Homo sapiens: one gene and its partners. The protein of the gene in region 1 interacts with the protein of each later gene in a biochemical or structural test. Each region holds a gene or a part of one and is shown in the gene's direction. Other genes may lie near its edges. The genes, in order: PIAS2, HIC1 and MBD1.

Region 1 (3,546 bases):
GTATCACCACGCCCAGCTAATTTTGTATTTTTAGTAGATACGGGGTTTCTCCATTTTGGTCAGGCTGGTCTCGAACTCCCGACCTCAGGTGATCCGCCTGCCTTGGCCTCCCAAAGTGCTGGGATTTACAGGCGTGAGCCACCGCGCCTGGCCAAAATAAAATGTTTTTATCTTTCTTCACTTAGAACTATGAAGGCCTTTTCTTGTTCTGGTAACCCCCCACAGTGTAATTGGTGCTGAAAATAGTTTCGTGCCTGAGGTCTGTTGTCACTCACTCACTTTCTGACAATTAGGTGAGCCACTTGAGGATTTTCTGGCCTGAAGTTATAAAAACTTGGCATCTGTCCTAAGGTAATTGTAAAGGCAAAATGAAAGCATTGAGGTGAATTTAGGTTATATGGCATTTATCTGGTAATGTGTTTCAGAAAAGCTAGAATGAAAATGTGATGTAAGGGATAGCAAGTGTAGGTTGATTCATAATTCTTGGTATAAAACCAAGTTTTCCTTAGTCTTGAGGAATTTGAAGAAAGGTAAAATGTTGGATTTTAAGCAAAGTAGGATTGACCAGAGACTGTTCTGACTTTGACATTCAGACCTTTCAGATGTTCTTCCTTCAGACCAGTCCAAGACACTCAGCATTTCCAGCCAAGTTGTCTTTTTTTTCTGCCAATAAAGTATTCATTAGTTGACGTTTGTTTGTATTTTAAGTAAAGTCAATTTTTTTTAAAGCATTAATTTAATTCACGGGTATGCCTTTCATTTCTCTGGCCTTCAGTTGGTTTAAAAAAAAAAAAAAAAAAAAAAGCACTTAGCCGGACCATTCTTTCTTTAGTAAACATTTTTATTTTCTTAATTTTTCCTGAAAGATTTTCTTCATTTTCATGGAATGTCATAATGACACTACCATTATTTTCTAGCTCTTTGCATAATAGAAAAATGTAGAGCAGTGCACCATTTAAACACGTCTGACATTGGATTTAGTGGTCCTAGGTTCATGTGATTTGGGAGCCTTAAGTTGTTATTTAGATTGATTCAGCCTGATTCACCATCTTTTTTACTACAGTTCTACATGAATGTGGTGAAACAGGTAGAAGAAAATTAAGCATTTCTCTGCTTTTGGAGTCTAATGTTCCTGCCTAGTGACTGGTTTGTAACACCCCCCTCACCCCTACTTTGTTAGGAACCTGCAATTCCTAAAAGAAATAAATAAAGCTGTACCCAATGTCCATTCTTTAATGCTTGCCTGGTTGAATAATGTTTGTTTTTTCTGTTTATGTCAGTAGTACATGCTTATTGTGGAAAATTTAGACAATACAGAAAAGTATAACAATTAATTGCCTATGATTCTGTCACCAGAAAAAATCACTTGATATTTTTGCATCTTCCTTGCCATTGTCTTTGCTACTTCTGCATATTTTTACTTAGTTTCATCATTCTCAGTGTAATTTATATCTTGGGGTTTTTCCCCGCAACCTACAGGCATTATTCCATGTCATTAAAACTGTGTCAACTATTATTAATTTTATGGTACTCCATTGTTATGGATGTGCCATGTTTCATATAACCTTTACTTATTTTGAACAGTTTAGATTATATCTCATAATGCCACAATGAATGTCTTTGTGTATAAATTATTTTCTTAGGATAAAATACTGGAGGTGGAATTTCTAGTCAAGGGTATATGAACACTTTTGTAGTTCTTGATTCATACCACTTTTCCACATGGGTATGTTAATTTATACTGCAGCTAGATGGTATGGGAAGGGTGGTCTAGCCATATTTTCCAAGAACATGCAACGTTTTATCTTTATGCAGGCATCTGCACTAAGACCCTCTGCCTTTCTGACTCTATGGAACGGGGTTAACTGATATGGAGATCATTGGCAGAGATTTTCCCAAGCTTTCTTAGTTTTAAATATATCTGACATGGGCCGGGTATGGAGGCTCACGCCTGTAATCCCAGCACTTTGGGAGGCCAAGGCGGGCAGATAATCTGAAGTCAGGAGTTGGAGACCAGCCTGGCTAACATGGAACATGGTGAAACCCCATCTCTAGCAAAAACATAAATTAGGTGGGTGTGATGGCAGGCGCCTGTAGTCCCAGCTACTTGGGAGACCGAGGCAGGAGAATCGCTTGAACCCAGGAGGCGGAGGATTTGCAGTGATCCGAGATTGTGCCACTGCACTCCAGCCTGGGTAACAAAGCAAGACTCTCTAAAAAAAAAAAAAAAAAAAAAAAAAAATATATATATATATATATATATATATATAAAATCTGACATGTTTCAGAAACACCTACGTATGGCTATCCAAGCTTTTCCCATGATTTTACTGGCACTGTAAAGTTGCACAAATATTCTTTGTCAGACTACGTTTTCCATCTTTAGTTCAAAAGTTTTGTCACTTTTTAAAAAAAGCCTCTTGTACCTAAGGCCTGCCCTTAAGAGGTCAGCTCTCTTTTTCCTCTTCCTGTAGGCCCCATTATGGCCTTTCTGAGCTCCCCAAAGCCAGTAGAATCTACTGAGCCAAAGGCATTCCATCCCCAAACTGAAAAGTGGTAAGGCTAAAAGCTATAAAAACAGGCAAACATTGCCTGTTTTCACTTTATATTCCCTTATGTTTCCAATAAGGGTAGCTGCAGGGAAAGAAAAAAACAGATTGCTACCTTCAGATGTTTGAGGTACAACATTTTCTTGATTGGCGTAGCACAATCATTTCCCAAACTGCTTCCTATTTCTGAATGGCTTTTTTAAAAAGCTTTATTTTGTGTTCTCAAAGCTTAATTATTTTAAGTGACGAAGAGTGTTACCGTGTTGTAGAATAGCATATGCCTCTTATTTTGGCCTTCATCAAACTGTTTAATAAATGTTTAGAGTGTTTTGTAAGTACACGTGGAATAGAGTGTTACAGAAGTTTTGGTTCCAGACATCAGGCAGCTTATAATCAAGGTTCCAAAAATCAAGAATTCTTAAGCTGGGCATGGTGGCTCATGCCTGTAATCCCAGCACTTTGGGAAGCCAAGGCAGGCAAATCACTTGAGGCCAGGAGTTTGAGACCAGCCTGGCCAACTTGGTAAAACCCCATCTCTACTAAAAATACAAAAAATTAGGGCATGATGGCTCATGTCTGTAATCCCAGCTACTTGGGAGGCTGAGGGATGAGAATTGCTTGAACCTGAGAGGCGGAGGTTGCAGTGACTCAGGATCATGACCCTGTACTCCAGCCTGGGTGACAGAGTGAGACCAAAAAAAAAAAAAAAAAAAAAAAAAAAAAGTAACAGGCATTGTGCAAAGAATTTTCCAAGAATGTCTCATTCTTGCAATGGCTTCTCAGAGGAAAGTGGTGTTATTCCCCATTTTACAAATGAAACAGGTTTAGGTAAGTTTCCCAAGGTCACAGTGAATGAGTAGTGGACTTGGGAGTCTGACCTAGACTTACCCCAAAAGCTCTCTGCGTAAACTGAAGTGACGTTAATTAGCTGTGCTATCTAGGAGACTGATATGGGAATCTAGACTTAAAATTATGAGAACTGGTTTCAGATGATGGC
Region 2 (2,970 bases), on another chromosome or scaffold:
AGTGGCCGCTGGGGCCGCCGGCCTAGGGCCCCCTTTTGGAGGCGGCGGGGACAAGGTCGCCGGGGCTCCGGGTGGCCTGGGAGAGCTGCTGCGGCCCTACCGCTGCGCGTCGTGCGACAAGAGCTACAAGGACCCGGCCACGCTGCGGCAGCACGAGAAGACGCACTGGCTGACCCGGCCCTACCCATGCACCATCTGCGGGAAGAAGTTCACGCAGCGTGGGACCATGACGCGCCACATGCGCAGCCACCTGGGCCTCAAGCCCTTCGCGTGCGACGCGTGCGGCATGCGGTTCACGCGCCAGTACCGCCTCACGGAGCACATGCGCATCCACTCGGGCGAGAAGCCCTACGAGTGCCAGGTGTGCGGCGGCAAGTTCGCACAGCAACGCAACCTCATCAGCCACATGAAGATGCACGCCGTGGGGGGCGCGGCCGGCGCGGCCGGGGCGCTGGCGGGCTTGGGGGGGCTCCCCGGCGTCCCCGGCCCCGACGGCAAGGGCAAGCTCGACTTCCCCGAGGGCGTCTTTGCTGTGGCTCGCCTCACGGCCGAGCAGCTGAGCCTGAAGCAGCAGGACAAGGCGGCCGCGGCCGAGCTGCTGGCGCAGACCACGCACTTCCTGCACGACCCCAAGGTGGCGCTGGAGAGCCTCTACCCGCTGGCCAAGTTCACGGCCGAGCTGGGCCTCAGCCCCGACAAGGCGGCCGAGGTGCTGAGCCAGGGCGCTCACCTGGCGGCCGGGCCCGACGGCCGGACCATCGACCGTTTCTCTCCCACCTAGAGCGCCCCTCGCCAGCCCGCTCTGTCGCTGCTGCGCGGCCCTGGCCCGCACCCCAGGGAGCGGCGGGGGCGGCGCGCAGGGCCCACTGTGCCCGGGACAACCGCAGCGTCGCCACAGTGGCGGCTCCACCTCTCGGCGGCCTCACCTGGCCTCACTGCTTCGTGCCTTAGCTCGGGGGTCGGGGGAGAACCCCGGGACGGGGGTGGGATGGGGTAAGGGAAATTTATATTTTTGATATCAGCTTTGACCAAAGGAGACCCCAGGCCCCTCCCGCCTCTTCCTGTGGTTCGTCGGCCCCCTCCCCCGGCTCCGCGCTGCTCTTAGAGGGGGAGGGGTGTCACTGTCGGGGCACTCCTAGCCCTACCTCCGGCCCTTGCGACCACACCCATTCTCACTGTGAATCTCCCCGCTGGGGTCGGAGCGTCGGGCAGAGTTGGGGAGTGGGGAGGGGACTGAGCCGGCCGGAGGGCCCCCCGCACCCCCGCTCCCACCCACCCCGGGACTGATAATGTGAAGTTCCTCATTTTGCACAAGTGGCACTAGCCCCAGGGCCAACCCTTCCTTCCTCAGTCACCAAGGGCGGGGAGTTCTGGAGTCGGAAGGCGAAGAGCCTACCACCAGGTCTCCCACTCCCGCGGTGCCCTCCCTTCCCTTCCCTGCGGCCCCGGACCATATTTATTGCATGCGCCCCGGCGGCCCCCCATCCCGAGCCCAGGCTGGGCTGGGCTGGAACGCGGTCTCTTTAGCTCCCTCCTCTTCGTTTGTATATTTCCTACCTTGTACACAGGCTCTTCCAGAGCCGCTTCCATTTTCTATACTCGAACCAAACAGCAATAAAGCAGTAACCAAGGACCCCGACCCCGCTGCTCTCTTCTGCCCCTGCACAAGGACCTGGATGGGCTGCGCCCGCTGGGTGGAGGAGCCAGAAAGGGCCACCCTCACACAGGTGCAGAGGCTTGGACCTGCCTCCCTCCCCAGTCCCAGAAACAGATCAGCAAGAGGTCAGGTATGTTTCATAACTAAAAATTTATTAAGGAAACAAAACCAGTGCTGCAAACGGGACAGAAAGGAGAGCTGGGTCTCCCTCCCGACCACCCAGTCATCGGCCTTCCAGCTGGGGAGAGAATCTTAAAGGAGAGGCCGGGGACCCTGTACTCCAAAGAGCCCAGTCTTCTGAGACTCTAGGGGACTCCTACCCCCAAACTACTGGCCTTGGCTCCCCTACACGGTACCCCATCGCTTCTGGCATAGTCCTGGGCCTCAGGGAGGGCAGAGCTGCGCACCCATCCTCCAGGCAGGCTGTGCAGTCAGGCCATGGGCTCTGGGGTATCCCCCACTGGTCCCATTAAGATTTGCCCCTGGCTCCACCGAAAACCCCGTCTTCCCCTAAGTTGTCCTTGTCTCTGGCCCTGGGTTTCAGGAACTCATTCTTGGTAAGGAAGCCTCCCCACTGAGGTACCAGCTAAAGGGGCAAGGAAAGGGCCCCTGTGTCAGTGTCAGTTTTTCCGGGGAGTGAGGGCAAAGCTAGAAACCAGGTTAGGCGACGGTGCCCCAGCACTGGAATGCCTCAGGCTGGGCTGTCCACGCCTGGAAGTTTCTCCCAGCACAGGAGCCGAGGGTGGAAGGCCCTGGGTGGGAGACCTGTACTAGGTTCCTGCCATGGGTAGTAGAGAGGGAAAGTTCAGAGTGAGAACCCCTATGACGAGGAACCGCGGTGAAGAAATGAAGGGGATCAGGGAGGTGAAAAGGATCAACTAGAAGGGGAAGAAGGGTGAGGGGCTATTCTGGAGGGAGGGTAGGCGGGCAAGGAGGGGTGAAGGGGGAGCTGAGGGGAGTCAGGACATTTCCTGAAGAGGAAGCTAGACGGAAAGAAAGGCCAGTGAGGAGAGAGGGAGCAGGTGGAGGCCACCCGAGAGCACGGGCCTGAGACCAGATGCCCCTTTCCTCTAGACTCATGACTGTCCACGGGGACGCAACTGGCGAAGTGTGAGGGACCCAGGTTGATAAGGGCAGGAAGAGGAGCAGCAGGAAGGGTGTGTGGTAAGTCTGGGGTGGATGGTAGAAGAGGTGGGGGCCCAGGGCTGCTGTTAGGGACATGCTGTCTAGAAGCCGACTTGGGTTCATGGGCGAGTCCAGGCCTCAGGGAGACTGGGGACACACACCCTGGGCACTTCTTCCTGACTTAACCA
Region 3 (3,651 bases), 3.5 Mb from region 1:
ACTGCCTCCACCACCCCCATCACAGTCCCCAGAGCCCACAGAGCCGGTGAGGCCCCAGTGGGTGGAGGGAAGGCACAACCCTGACCTTACCCAGTACCTGCCCTGACCCCACCCCATTTGCCTCTACAGCACCCCAGAGCCCTGGCCCCCTCGCCACCTGCCGAGTTCATCTATTACTGTGTAGACGAGGACGAGCTAGTGAGTGGCCCCACCCTACCTGGATAAGCCTAGAATCTCAGGACGCTTGGTTAACTTCAAAGAAGCAGATGCTGGAATGAGCCTATTGGGGAACAGCAAGGCACAATAATGGGTCCTAGGATGGGATGAGTAGATAATGGAGGACTAATACGGGGTCAGCAGGTGCATGAGAGTGCTTCATGTCACATATACCAACACTCTGGTAGCTGATGTGGGGATTGACAGAGGAGCAGCTAGCATAGTGACTGGGGTTCACCTAGGATGAGCGACAGAGTAGGCACAGTGATGGGAGCTAATAGAGAGTTATCAAAATGTTGCTGGAAATGGGGGTCAGAGACATTTTCTTGGTAGCTAGTGGTGGCCTAGGAAATACAGCAGTGGATACTGTAGTGGAGCAGCCACAGTCCTAATGGTATCGAGGGCCAGCTGGCACAGTGATAGTGGCCAATGTTGAACTAGCGAATGCTGAGGAGTGACTAGTGGGGAGTCAGGAGGCTGAGACTAGTATGCAAGTAGCTCCGTCTTATGGGGCTAGAGGAGCACCAGGACCAGCACTGGAATAGGCGTTGAGGATGGCCTCTCCTAGTCCTAGTTGACAGCACCACCCATTCCCCCCACCCCAGCAGCCCTACACGAACCGCCGGCAGAACCGCAAGTGCGGGGCCTGTGCAGCCTGCCTACGGCGGATGGACTGTGGCCGCTGCGACTTCTGCTGCGACAAGCCCAAATTCGGGGGCAGCAACCAGAAGCGCCAGAAGTGTCGTTGGCGCCAATGCCTGCAGTTTGCCATGGTGGGTGGGGCAGGAAGGGTCAGGTGGACGGGATAGGTTGGGCCAGGCGCCCCAGTGCCTGGAAGTGGTGGGCAGGCTTGGTAGGTGGGTGGGTGGGGCAGTAGCTTTGGTTGAGGATTAACAGACATTGTTCTTGGCTTAATGAGTCTAGGTGGCATTGGTGTTGCTAATAGGAGACTAGCAGGCTCAGTGATGAAGGGCTCATATGTAAGCAGATTCCGTGCTGGGACTGATGGGAGATTAGCAGGCATGTGGAGCCGGGCAGGGTGGATGTGATTGGTCAGGACACCAGGTAGCCATAGCACCCTATCTTTCCCCATAGAAGCGGCTGCTGCCCAGTGTCTGGTCAGAGTCTGAGGATGGGGCAGGATCGCCCCCACCTTACCGTCGTCGAAAGAGGCCCAGCTCTGCCCGACGGCACCATCTTGGCCCTACCTTGAAGCCCACCTTGGCTACACGCACAGCCCAACCAGACCATACCCAGGCTCCAACGAAGCAGGAAGCAGGTGGTGGCTTTGTGCTGCCCCCGCCTGGCACTGACCTTGTGTTTTTACGGGAAGGCGCAAGCAGTCCTGTGCAGGTGCCGGGCCCTGTTGCAGCTTCCACAGAAGCCCTGTTGCAGGTGAGGGCCCCACCCTGTCCTGCCTTCCCAGCCTCACCCAGCTGCATGCCAGGGAGCTGAGACCAAGTCTGCTGCAATCCTCCCTCACGCAGGAGGCCCAGTGCTCTGGCCTGAGTTGGGTTGTGGCCTTACCCCAGGTGAAGCAAGAGAAGGCGGATACCCAGGACGAGTGGACACCAGGCACAGCTGTCCTGACTTCTCCCGTATTGGTGCCTGGCTGCCCTAGCAAGGTGGGGGCAGTGATGGATGTTCTGTTGGTGCCGTAGCGGAGTGGTCTGTAAGCAGAGTGATGATGAGCCATGATGGTTCTCTTGAGCAGAGCAATAGATGTGCTGATTGCGACGTTTCTGCAGAATTACCCCGCCTGTCTAACAGACACCCTACCTCCCACAGGCAACTAGCTTTGCCCGCTTTGCTATCCAGCTAACAGAAAAACGGAGGTCAGTGAGGAATGGGAATGGGAAAGCTTTGTAGGCAGAGAGATGGACTTTCTGTGTTGAAATGTGATGGAAGTAGGATTTGTCAGCACAGTGAGGGGTTGGCTGATAGAGACTTTCCTCAGGTGAACTCTGCCCTTCTAATGGTTGCCTGTTTCCTACTTCTCCCAGGCAGTAGACCCAGGCCTGCCTTCTGTGAAGCAAGAGCCACCTGACCCAGAGGAGGACAAGGAGGAGAACAAGGATGATTCTGCCTCCAAATTGGCCCCAGAGGAAGAGGCAGGAGGGGCTGGCACACCCGTGGTCAGTGCTGGGGATGCCCCACCCTGCCCTGACCCTGCTGTAGCCCCAACAACCACATTGACCTATGGTGTTAATTCTTCTCTAGATCACGGAGATTTTCAGCCTGGGTGGAACCCGCTTCCGAGATACAGCAGTCTGGTTGCCAAGGTGTGCCCCACACAGTGAGGGGTGGGGAAGGAGTGGGTGTTGGCCAGATGTGGGCCCTGAGTTTTGAAAGTATAGCCGGCAGTTTGGCATGGTGTGGTGGGAGGTAAAGGCCCATACCCACTATGCTGGTCACAATTAATGAGGGGCGTGTGTGTAGGACCCTAGAGATTTCTCCTGAGATCCAGCCCAATAGCATTCCAGGTTAGGACTCTCCTTTGGGGGTAGGGGAAAGACTTGGTACTCTATCATGAGATTTGAAAGAAAAAGATAGGGAGTCTGGTCCCTATTTTCCTAAGGAATTTCTATAGGGGTCAGCTTTAATATATAAATTCTTATTCAGAGAATAATCATTTGGGTCTTGAAGGCCTTTAGAGTCTCCAGGAGACCTCTGGGTGGGCTGTTGCCTGACATTGAGCAATGTGTACCAGAGAAATGGTGCTGGGCTTGCCTGGGCAGTGGTATGGGCAGGAGATCTGGGTTCCGAGCTGGCTTTGTGAGCTGGGTTCACACGTAGTTGTGTGATCTCTGGTTGCCCTGCACTTCCTGGAGCGGCCTCTGTGGAAGGGCTTGGGCTGGATCTCTTGAGCCTTTCCTGAGCCTATTGAGGTTATTAACTTCAGATGCCTTGCAGAACTGTCCCTGTAGTCCTGGCATAGAACAAAGGGTAGATGCCTGTAAGGACTAGGGTGGTTGGGAGGACAGAGGAGTGCTGGCTCCTGCAGAATATTGACAGACCCTGCATAGAGCCCCAGACACTGGCGATGTAAACTATTGGCCTAAGCACTTGGATTCCTTTGCTCCTACAAACCAGCCCACCAGGCTAGAAACCCTTTCATCTATACTTGGCCAATTACAGAAGTATTGATTGAGTTCCTGTTGGGTGCACAGCATTGAGGACAATGAGCCCTGCAAAGCTTACCCTTCAGGAGACACAGGATACCTACCTTCAGGGAGCTTATAATCTGACTATGTACAAGCTGTCTATAATGGTAGTTTTTAGAAGATATAAAAAAAGATAAAGGATAATTAAGGGGAAGTGGATGGAGGACACAGAATAGTAGGAAATGGTTTTGTAATGCTCCATTGCGCACATAGCAAACCTCATTCAACATACAGACCTGCTCCCTTTTCCCTAGGTCCAAAGACCTTAAAA

What was found.
Region 2: of the proteins of PIAS2 (region 1) and HIC1, one has a biochemical effect on the other in vitro, tested with the Homo sapiens proteins (one study listed by BioGRID).
Region 3: the proteins of PIAS2 (region 1) and MBD1 form a complex in vitro, tested with the Homo sapiens proteins (one study listed by BioGRID).

The regions. Positions count from the first base shown.
Region 1 is NC_000018.10:46,806,080-46,809,625, reverse strand, and holds part of PIAS2 (E3 SUMO-protein ligase PIAS2), read left to right. Parts: 3' UTR 1-3,546. UniProt on the Homo sapiens protein: Functions as an E3-type small ubiquitin-like modifier (SUMO) ligase, stabilizing the interaction between UBE2I and the substrate, and as a SUMO-tethering factor.
Region 2 is NC_000017.11:2,058,055-2,061,024, forward strand, and holds part of HIC1 (hypermethylated in cancer 1 protein), read left to right. Parts: coding exon 1-781; 3' UTR 782-2,970. UniProt on the Homo sapiens protein: Transcriptional repressor. Recognizes and binds to the consensus sequence '5-[CG]NG[CG]GGGCA[CA]CC-3'. May act as a tumor suppressor. Involved in development of head, face, limbs and ventral body wall.
Region 3 is NC_000018.10:50,271,524-50,275,174, reverse strand, and holds part of MBD1 (methyl-CpG-binding domain protein 1), read left to right. Parts: coding exon 1-46; intron 47-129; coding exon 130-198; intron 199-821; coding exon 822-989; intron 990-1,311; coding exon 1,312-1,611; intron 1,612-1,703; coding exon 1,704-1,841; intron 1,842-2,219; coding exon 2,220-2,351; intron 2,352-2,436; coding exon 2,437-2,498; intron 2,499-3,634; coding exon 3,635-3,651. UniProt on the Homo sapiens protein: Transcriptional repressor that binds CpG islands in promoters where the DNA is methylated at position 5 of cytosine within CpG dinucleotides. Binding is abolished by the presence of 7-mG that is produced by DNA damage by methylmethanesulfonate (MMS).